Linked DNA regions of Homo sapiens: region 1 is linked to region 2. The links come from fine-mapping of genetic effects on gene expression. A gene starts in region 2. The other region holds a variant in brackets. All regions are shown on one strand. Distances are between the middles of the regions.

The links. PIP is the estimated chance that this variant, and not a neighbour inherited with it, causes the effect.
Region 1: its variant is the best candidate, but not a certain one, in a credible set for the expression of LMO4 in whole blood (TOPMed, PIP 0.62).

Annotation. Positions count from the first base shown.
Region 1 is chr1:87,297,041-87,302,413 of GRCh38, reverse strand. No RefSeq gene overlaps it. Among named protein-coding and RNA genes, the nearest start is that of LMO4, 29 kb to the left of the region's middle. The variant A/T (reference allele first, on the strand shown) is at 3,180.
Region 2 is chr1:87,326,409-87,331,781 of GRCh38, reverse strand. LMO4 (LIM domain only 4) reads right to left here and starts at 2,902. Exons shown (of 5, transcript NM_006769.4): 1 at 2,538-2,902. RefSeq lists enhancers at 1-419, 420-1,058, 728-2,273, 1,839-2,414, 2,415-2,992 and silencers at 112-471, 1,838-1,927, 2,851-3,280, 3,531-3,700.

The DNA of each region.
Region 1 (5,373 bases), 29 kb after region 2:
TCTAGGTTATGTTCTTAGAATGTCAATAAAAATATTCGCACTGCTTTTATCAGACACATTTAGAATGACGTGTCTCTGTTGGTTTAAGACATTTTCATGATTTCCAGTTGTTCTTCGGGTGAAGACTAGTATTCATGCTTCGCCTTCCTTTTCATCTTTATCCCTCCCATGCCCCTTCCCTCTGTGTTGCTGCCACAACTGAAGCCAGGGTTAGTACATTCCCCTCAGGACAACATCCAGCAAGGCCCCTTTCATCTCCCGGTGTACACTGGTCCAGGTCTCCTTCATGGGCCTCCTCATCCAAGGTTGAAGATACCCACTCTGCTTGGCAAGGCAGGCAGCGGAGTCCTATAGCCCAAAGCAGCCCAACTGAGGCCAGCTTTCTGGAAGAATCCACAGCCGGGGCAGCACTGCATTCAGATAGCTCTTCTATCAGACTCATTACCAGTGATTCTGGAAAGCTCCTTCCCTGAGTTTTCTCTTCAAATGTCTTTGCCATACCTGAGCTGAAGCTCATCATTAGAAAGACAGGAAGGCTGAAGAAGCTCAAGAGGTGGCTTTTTGCCACTCCAGGCACTTCACAGCCAGCATTGTCCCTCTACCTCTCCTTGACCTCCAGGCCAACAAAAGGATGAAGACAGGAGCTGCCGACTTCCACTTGGTCCATACTTTTTTTTTTTTTTGAGATGGAGTCTTGCTCTGTCGCCAGGCTGGAGTGCTGTGGCGCAATCTCAGGTCACTGCAACCTCTGCCTTGGTCCATAATTTCACAACAAACCTATCTCTTGGGCAAACTGAGAACCTCAAACCCCCACTACCCAGAAATGGAACCCAATCAGTGTCCCCAGTTTACCACAGGATTGCCTTTTAAAAATCACTCCTTGGGCCACCTGCCCAGCATCTATCTCCTCTCAACCTTCTATGATCTGACTGGTAGACTCAGGGGTCCTGAGAAACTGCATCTCTGAAAGTTTGAAAATCTAATTCGTGCTACTGTTGTTCAATGATGGTAACTCATAACCACTGAATTGGAACTCATTAGCAGGGCAGCATTAAGGAGTTGCTGCCGCATTTGAAATCCATTTCTTGGGGGAGTCTGATTGCCTTCAGGGACTTTCTCATGGGGTGATTGAAGTCACTCCCTTTAGAAAACAAAGTATTCTATATAACCACCTCAAGGCCCCAGCCTGCTTTCTTTTAGGAATTTAACAGAGGCTTATATAAGGTCCAATAACTGAATTAATTAAGAGTAAAATGAAGATGGTGACTTCATATTTCTTTGGTCAGTGAAAATTTTAACATTCTCATAACCCTTTTTATTCTCTCTTCTCTTTGTGAATGCTAATAGAAAAATCCTTTTTAAATGGTATTTTGTTAGCAGGGGCTATGCCGACAACTCCACAGTATCTTCCCACAGATCACTGCTCACATCATTCAGATGTTGAAAATTTTAAATGAAATCAATACTGGCCTATTCATGTCAACAGCACTATCCCTGGTGATGTAAAAATATAGAGAGAAACTGCAACCCAGGCTACTTACCCAGCGCTCTTTTCATTACAGGTCGTCAATTAAATTATTTCTACAATATTGTATCCGTCCACAAAATGTTACGCAATATTCATGCACATTACTTCAGCTACACAGAATCCCTGTAAAATAAATGAGGGCGGGCAAGGAAACTGAAGAGACCTAGTAAAATAGGAAGGCATTTATAGTAAGTCCAGTCACTTGGCCGCCAAAATTGCCCCCACGATGATGCTTTTATTATCACTTGAGAAACAGCAATGTCTTCATTCTTGTGATTCCAAATTATTCCATGCTATAGGAAAGAATATCCTCAGAGAGATTTCTTGTAACAGTGAGTGGGAACTGTAACTAGGAACTTGAAAGTCAGCCTCGTTTGCAATGGACCAAGCTGGTGGGCTTTCAGAGAAGCTGGACGTGTCTCTGTTTCCCCGGATTCAGTTGCAGCGCCAGATTCAGAACCAGGAGCCCATTACCAGTCAAATCCTCCAGGCTTCATTGATGATACCCCAGGAGGTTCTGCAGCTCCAATTGCCCCTGGCGCTGAGCAGGGGAAGCCAGTGGACTGTGCTAAGGCTTGGCCCCGGAATTAGTGATCCAGCCAAGATGCATCTCGGCAGGAGGATGAACTGATTGAATCAATAATTTCAATCACTGCCTATTCCTGGTAGAAACCAGGGAGGGCAGAGGAGGACGGGGGAAGGGAAAACCCACAAGCCTGGAGAGGCCAGGGCTAAGCCCAGCCTGAAAAGAAAACAATGAAAACATCCCCATAAGGAGAAGAGGATTGGAAAGAAGAAAAATGGACCAGGTTCACTGAGTAAGTGCCTAGGAATTATCCTCACCTAAAAGAGCCAACCTGCAAGCAATCTGCCATCTGAAAGCCACCTCCTTCTATGGGGCATAGAATTTTGAGGCTTTTATTCTGAGGATGATGATTACTATGGGTTTGGAAATGGCCCACAAAGCCTGCTGCTCCCAGTGCCTTGCCTGTGACTTCCTCAGCTATGTGGCCATCTCTATATGGCTATGTCAAGCCACATGATCTGCCTAGGCCTATTTCCTCCTGTTAGCTATATGACCTTTTTAGGCCTATTTTCTGCTCTTGAAAGGGAAGCCTGAATCAGATAACACTTTGAATCCAATCCTTCTGGGACTAACATTGGAGAATTCTGTAGGCCCGAGTTTTAGCTTGCCTGCTGCCATCACTGCCTCTCTGGCTGGTCTGGTCCTGTCTGCAGTGGAACACAGGCACAGATGGTGAGAGTAGCAGGAGCTGCCTCCTTTAGTAAGACTAGCTGCCTTTTATTGAGTGCTTACCATGGAAGATCTCAGCCAAGTTTAATCCTCCTTGGAACCTCCTGAGGCATTATGTATGTCCCCATTTTATAGATGAGGAAAGTGAGGAACAGAGGAGTTAAGTAACTGTCCTAAGTCACCGAGCTAGTTCCTAGCAGATCCAGAATGAAAACCTGAGTCTGTGAGGCCCCAGAGTCAGAGCTTTTAATGGCCAGAGTATACTGCCTCTCTCCCTCTTTGCTCCTTAATGGAGCAACTTGGGAATTAAGTGCCTTCTTTTGCAGGGTGACCTTCAGCCACCAGCTGGAAATCCAGGAGGGGCCTCAGCCAAGTTTACTCTCGGCACAATAAGGA[A/T]GCAGAGGGCTCCCAGGGACGTTCTTCCTCACCACCCATCTTCTCTGTCTTCCATTCCCTATGCCCTGCCTAGGAGTCTCAGCTTCATCCGCCTTATCCATGTCCCGGCCATCTTTGCTGACACAATCCTCTCTTCACTCACCCCCAACACCTAGACCCCAGGTCAGAGGATGCTAGCTCCAGGTCCCCATCCTTCTGGGCCTTGTTCTCTGCTATGAAGCTGCCAACAAGTTATGCCACGGGTGTAAGCATCAGGTATAGAGCCTTTGATAGCGTATCCCATGCCCCCATTTGTTTAGAACACTTTGGAAAACAATGCTTTTAATTCAAAATTGCAGGTCAGAATTTTTGGCCTCAGGAAAGGTCATTTGAAGGAGACTTGGGAGAGGAGCAAGTCTGCTACATCTGCCACCAATCCAATCAATGACAGAGGGTGTCTTAGTCTCATTGAGTTGCTGTAACAAAATACCATACATTAGTGTCTTATAAACAACAGGAATTTATTTCTCACTGTTCTGGAGACTGGGAAGTCCAAGATCAATGCACCTACAGATTCAGTGTCTGGTGAGGGCCTGGCTCTAGATGTGTCCTCGTGTGGTAGAAGCATCAGGGGAGTTCTCTAGAGCCTCTTTTATAAGGGCACTGATCCCATTCACAAGGCTCTGTCCTCATGACCCAATCATCCCCCAAAGCCCCAACTCCTAATACCATCACATTGAGAATTATGTTTCAATGTATGAATTTTGGGGAGACCCAAACACTCAGATCATAGCAGAAGGCTACTCCAATCACTCACGAAACTCACATGACCCACCCCAGGGACTTCTCAGGTCACGTTGCAGCAATTGAAACACACCGAGAAAAGAAAGCTTCAGTCAGGAAGGCTGTTGGTGGCTTGAGCAGTAGGAAATAGAGAATAGGAACAGATGACATAGGAGGTGGCCTGGCTCTGTTTCTAAATGCCAGAGTGGGAGTGACCCCCAGACTTCCTGAGAGATCTACTTGGAGCGTGTAGCACATAATTAATGGAGCCCACAATTCCAACACACTGTTTTTCAATTCAATTCACCAAAAAATTTTTAAGAGCTTGAATGCGTAAGGTCCTGGTCTTGCATCTGGAGATGTGGACATGAATAAGACATGGTCTCTGACCCTAAAAACCTTAGAGTCTAGTGGGAGAGACAGACACACACAGAAGTAACCATGATACAAAGCAAGCGGTGATTAGTGCTAAATAGAGATATACACAGAGGACTGTGGGGGCTCAGAGGTTGGCTGATTATACTGTCCACAGAAGGAATTTGCAGAGGAAGGGACCTGAACTGGGCTTTCAAAATAAAAAATGCAGAAGCCTTGTGATATGGTTTGGCTGTGTCCCCATCCAAATCTCATCTTGAATTATAGCTCCCATAACTCCCACATGTCATGGGATGGACCCAGTGGGAGGTAATTGAATCATGGGGGCAGGTCTTTCCCATGCTGTTCTCATGATAGTGAATAAGTCTTACAAGATCTGATTATTTTATTTTATTTTATTTTTTTGAGATAGAGTCTCACTCTGTCGCCCAGAGTGGAGTGCAGTGGCATGATCTTGGCTCACTGCAACCTCCACTTCCTGAGTTCTAGTGATTCTTGTGCCTCAGACTCCCAAGTAGCTGGGACTACAGGCATCCACCACCATGCCCAGATAATTTTTGTGTTTTTAGTAGAGGCAGGGTTTTGCCATGTTGGCCAGGCTGTTCTCAAACTCCTGACCTCAAGCAATCCACCCACCTCAGTCTCCGAAAGTGCTGGGATTACAGCCACCGTCTCAGCCAAGATCTGATGGTTTTATAAACAGGAGTTCCCCTGCACATGCTCTGTCTTGCCTGCTGCCATGTAAGACATCCCTTTGCTCTTCCTTCATCTTCCACCAAGATTGTGAGGCCTCCCCAGTCATGTGGAACTATGAGTCCATTAAAACTCTTTCCTTTATAAATTACCCATTCTCGGGTATGTCTTTTTAGCAGCATGAGAACAGACTAATACACCTTGCCACTCTCTGAGTACTTAATACGTAACCAGCTTTTGATGTGTATCACACCAGAAAACCAACATAGCACTGTGAAGAGGGAATTTGCCCCACTTTGCAAATGGGGATAGCTGAGGACCAGCCTGGGCAAGAGCCAAACCCAAGTCTATCTGCCTTCAGAAC
Region 2 (5,373 bases):
CTCTCAACTTTCCTGCGCTTGCCGCCGCTGACAATTTCAGCTCCGGTACTGTCAAAACTCCGAGAGCAGGCTCCGCTGCGCGCTCCACCCCTCGCGGCACCTCCTCCCAGCCCCCGCCTCCGCCCACTGCCCCCTCCTCCCCTCCTCCGCCGCCCGCCTCCAGCAAATGAGGGTCAAACCCACCCACCGCCGCGCCCGGCCCCTCCCCAGCCCCCGCCGGGCCCCGGGACAGAGCCGAGAGGAGTGGGGAGGCGGCGGCCCCGCCGGAGCCTCGTTCCCTCCCGGGTTCTGCCCCGGGAAGTGCAGCTGCAGTTCACAAGTTGGAAATAGTTCGGTTTTCCGAAAGGGAACGAGGGAGGGACCGGCAGACGGGAGACGGAGAGCGTGGTGATGGGAGGGAAGGCAAGGTGACGGGAGGGGTGGGTGCAGTGTGTAAAGTTGCGAAACTGGTTTTTCGTATTTTAAGCAGCACCTTTCACATGCCATTGTGGTGACCGCCATCTCCCATTATTGTTCCAAATCTCATTTCATTTTGAAGATCAATGAGTGTTTTCTCTGGGTTTTCAGGACACAGGCAAGAATAATAGATCATTGAACTTTAGGATGCCTGTTAACTTCCTATACAAACACTCTCCACTTTGGTCTCACTAATCTGCCCTTGATCAGCAATTTAAATGCTAAAGCTTTGTTCCTCCAAAGGGCGGGGGGGGGGGGGGGGCGGGCGGCGTTACAGATAATGTGCGAGAAGGCACCATTAAGGGATGCACAAGTTAAATTCGAGCCCGTCCTGCTGTCACCAAAAACTGCTTTAAAAAAGAATTCCCCACTCTAATGAATGCCACAAGAGATGCAACTGGGATATAATATAGGAATCAATTTATAAAGCTTAGCCTAAACCGATTAATTTGTTGCCTTCAATCCCGAGTCCAATAAAGTCCTAGTGTTCCTCTAGTCACTTATTCTGTAAAAAGATCAAGTTATTTACTGCCAATTAAGCAGCCTGTATTGTCTTTGTCCTCTGTAAGCTGAGAGTGTGGGCTCCCCCTGAGGCTCCCGGCTATCTGCTCAAGACATTCAGCTGATACCTCAGAAGAAGGCGAACTTTGCCTGTACCCGGCCCAACTTGGCTGCTGCAAAAAAAACGAGGAAGGAACGAAACAAGGACTCGGGTTCCTTAAATAGGCCGATTTTAAACACATTTCCTCCGAAAGAGTCCCGGAACGTGTGTCCAGTGACCGCACAATAAACCAGAATAAGAACTGCACCAATTAAGCTGTAACAAAACCCTGAGACTTTGGAAACAGGACCACTCTAAAACCCATTAGCATTGCATTTATCCGAATGCATCATACCTTTATGTAAATTGATTTATCTGATGCATTTACTCGAGGAATTGCTTTTTGTTACAATTTCAGCCCTAACCCAAATGAATCTGCATTTCCTGCCCTAGATCTTTAAACTGTTTCCCCCAACGTTTTAATCGCTCCGAATTCCTTTTTAAAAGGAGAGTGAGGGAGGAGATTCCAAGCTCTTCCCCGCCCCCATCTTTAGTGAGAGGTAAATATATATGTATTTTTTTTTTGAAAAGGAAACATTACACTGAGAAAAGCATCCAGTAACCCCATTAGCTAAAGCTCTTAAGGACAAGCAATACCTTAATGCTGATTAAATCTAAAAGAGATGAATCAAGAAGACTGACCAGAAACTGACTCCCCTGATAACTAAGGACGGGCCCTCATCAAGTTTCATTTAGAGTTGGAAAAAAAAAAAAAAAAAAGAAAGCTTTTAAGTTAAATAGGCTTATACTCTAGTAATTACATAGCCAAGCAATTTAGGTCCTGGGATAGTCAGTGAAATAGAAAGCAGAACTGGCAGCTAGAGGCAAAATCTGCCCCCCTTTAACAACGTCTCTGGTGTTTTTTAATGGAGACCAAGGGAGGGACAAACGTAACGCTGGCAATTTGTAGTACAAAAATGGATGCTTAATTCATGTCTTGATTTTAATTAGGTGATTCACCGTATTTCTCCTGGATTGGAACAAAAGACTTATAAGCCAAGAAGAATTTTTTTAAAAGAACCAGCAATACCGAATCCTGCTCACTTAGATCCTTCCTGCCACTGTTTCAAAAATAGTGTTTACTAGAAGGGAGGGGGGGTATCGTGACTATCCCCACCCCCACCCCCCCAAACACACTACTTCTCATACTTAAAATCCTCATCTAAGCACCCCTTGCCTTTCCCTTATGAACTAGAAATATCCCCACCCCCTCTACGGTCCCCACCAGCCCCGTTTCCAAGAAGAGCCCTTTTGTAAGCAGGAACCGCTACAAAGCTGGCGGCCCGGGGCTGCCCTCCGCGCTAGCTCGCAGGCCGGCCTCGGTAGTTTCAGACTCGCGCTTTATCTAAGCCGACGTATTGTTTACTTGCAATTTGGGACGGTCAGGGGAAGGAAGCCAAAGAAAACAGCCCTGGCCCGAATCGACCCCCTCCCTCCCTCTCCCACCTCCCGGCCCGCGGCTCTCCACCCGCCCCCTTACCTGCTTTTCCCCTATATTGCAATATTGCGAGAGGCGGCGGCGGTGAAATGCGAGCGAAGCCGCTCGGCTTCCAGGGAAGGGGCGCCTGGGCTGGCGGAGCTGGAGGGAGGGAGGGAGTTCTCGCAGAAGCAGGAAAGGGGAGGAGGGGGCTAAGGGCGGCTTTTTTTTTTTTTTTAAATCGCGTTGCTCTGGGGCGGGTTGGGGGGCCCCCGCGTAAGTGCCGGGCGGCCGGGAGCAGAAGTGTCAGTCTCAGTCTTCGTCCTTCTCCGCCTCCGACTGCGCGCGAGCAGCTGCAGGAGCCCTCGGCCCGCGCGGCGCGGCTTCAGGCGCGGCGCAGCGGCAGCAACTGCTGCAATCGCTGCTGCAAGTTTGGCAATGTGGCTTCACTTTGTATATTCCCCCGCCCGGGGGCCCCCGCCCCCGCCCGCGCTCCTCCCGCTCCTCCTCCTCCTCCGCCGCCGCCTTCCTCCCTCCCGCGCGCTCGCTCGCTTGCTCGCTCCGGGATGGCAGCGGCGGCTCGGCTGAGCTCCCTGCACCTCCGGCCGGGAGCAGTCGCAGACACAACAGCCCCGGGAGCGGCGGCGGACGGTGCGGAGGCCGGCAGGCAGGCGCACCCAGGCGTCGGGGGCTGCGGCCGGCCGGGCCCGGCGCGCTGGAGCCTGCGCCGCTGCCGGGGCTGTTGCTGCCCGGCTCGGAGGCGGCGGCGGCGGCGGCGCTGGCCTCTAGCCGGCTCGCTCGCTCCCTCCGCGGCTCTTACACATGTGTTACTGACAGAGCAAAATCCCAACTACTCCCCGGCTCTGCCTCCGACGTCAGCGACCCTCAGCCACTGGGCGGCCGGATTGTTCAGGCGGAATAATAAAACCTGCCAATCCGGGGAAGGACAAAGGGATGACTGAAACGAGACTCGGGGGGCGGGAGAGAGAGCGAGGCGGCAGAGCTGGCCGACAGAGGAGAAGGGAAGGGCCCGAATCAGGTGGGGTGAAGTGACCCGGGCGCCTGGGGCCGGGGACCCGCTTGGGCTGCCCTTCGCGACCCGGGATCCGGAGTCGAGACGCAGGGCGGGGCCTCACCTGCCTTCTCAGCGCACGGGGACCCTGAGGACCCGCGCCCGCTCGCCCCTCGGGGACTGCCATCCCCTCTATCTGAGAGGAGACCCTTAGGAAACTTACCATCTTTCTCAGAAATGGGTCTCTTCCTGTTTGGGAAGATAAGTCCTGCATCTTAGGGCAGTGGACTTCTATCCCCTCACGCACAAGCACACAGAAGAGGATTTTTGTTGTTGTTTCTTTAATTCACGATATTGGAGATTTATGAACCGTAGTGGAAGCTTAGTTAACAAGGTAGAAACATAAAGGAAATAATAGTTGCTAGCTAAATACTGCCTACTTAGCCTCCCTCATACTCCCATTTTTCCGAGTTTGAAAGTGCCTAGCAGGCATTTCCTGGATCCTTGTCAATTGCTGGTGATGTAGGGAGCACAGTCCTTATTTTCAAAGTTGACGAAAACTTAAGGGAGAAAGCCTTTCCCGACTACCCTCCTCACTGTGGAGGATGAGAGGCGGAAATTCTCACAGCCCCCAAAAGCAATGGAAGTAATTGCAAGATTTGCAATCTCACAGCCTCTAGAGAGTAAGAAATGTCACTTCTAGTATAAATCAAGTTTTGAGGAATGCTTTTAGGGTGCTAGCCTGAGAGTCTTTTTCCAAGGCCGAAGCACAGCCTAGATGCTTGAATACCTAGGCATTCGACTTTATCTACTCTGCCAAATAGGTTAAATAAATCTCCAGACTGAGGCTAATATTAGGCCTGATTATTGTTAGTAAGTTCCAGAGAGATTTTTCTGGTGGAAATTATCATGAAAGTGCAAAGCCCTTCTGCTAAGTATCATTAAGTAAAACCAGCCTTGTGGGGCAAGTTTTCATATTGTGTTACACACAGTACTGCTAGATTGAGGAAAGGAACCTGAAGGAGAATCTGGCGAGACAATGCAGATGTTGAACATTTAGGGTTTTAGTGTCTATTTGGGGGATTTCTGTCTTTCAAACCATCAAAATTAATAAGGCTGCATAAGAAAGAATAATTATTGCCCATACAGTCAGGTAGAGGGCATTTTAAATATCAATTCAAATACTCATTTTTTAATTCTAGCACCTTAAAATTAAATGAATTAATTTTATTGATTTGTATTTAAAGTTGCACTGCTATGATGAATTCACCTTGTGCACATATAAAAAACTTTTTTTAAAAAAAAGTCATTAAAACTATAATAGTAATTAAAATGTCCTACACAGAAAACAGCTACAGATGGGCATGATTAAAGAGGACCAACTTAGAAAAGATGTAATGCTGCTTGAAGGTTAGTCAAGAAAACTCAATTAAACCAGATGAGGAGAGGAACACCATAAACAAATAATACATTTGAATCCCCTGGTTCATTTTCACTTTTTAAATAATTTATAATAAAAGGAGATGACACAAGATCTTAGTGGGCTACAATTAAGTTATGATTTGTCATGTGCAAGTAAATTTCCGTCTCTGGGCCTTAATTTTCTCATCCACAAATGAGAGAATTAAGCCAAATGGTCTTTATTTTTTCTTTTTAAAAATGATTTTCTTAGATAGAGCACATAATGCATAGATGTATAACGAATTGTGGTACTTTTCAGGATTTTTCCTGAAGAATATGCACTAAAACGAAATCTTAATTCCTGAAGGAAATGTTAGAAATTTAACCAGACACATGTTCAGCTATCATTGAGTGATTATCCAGAGGATCCCGGTGGTGTTTGTGGAAGGAAGGAGAGTGAGATGGATAAAACTTTGAATAACAGAG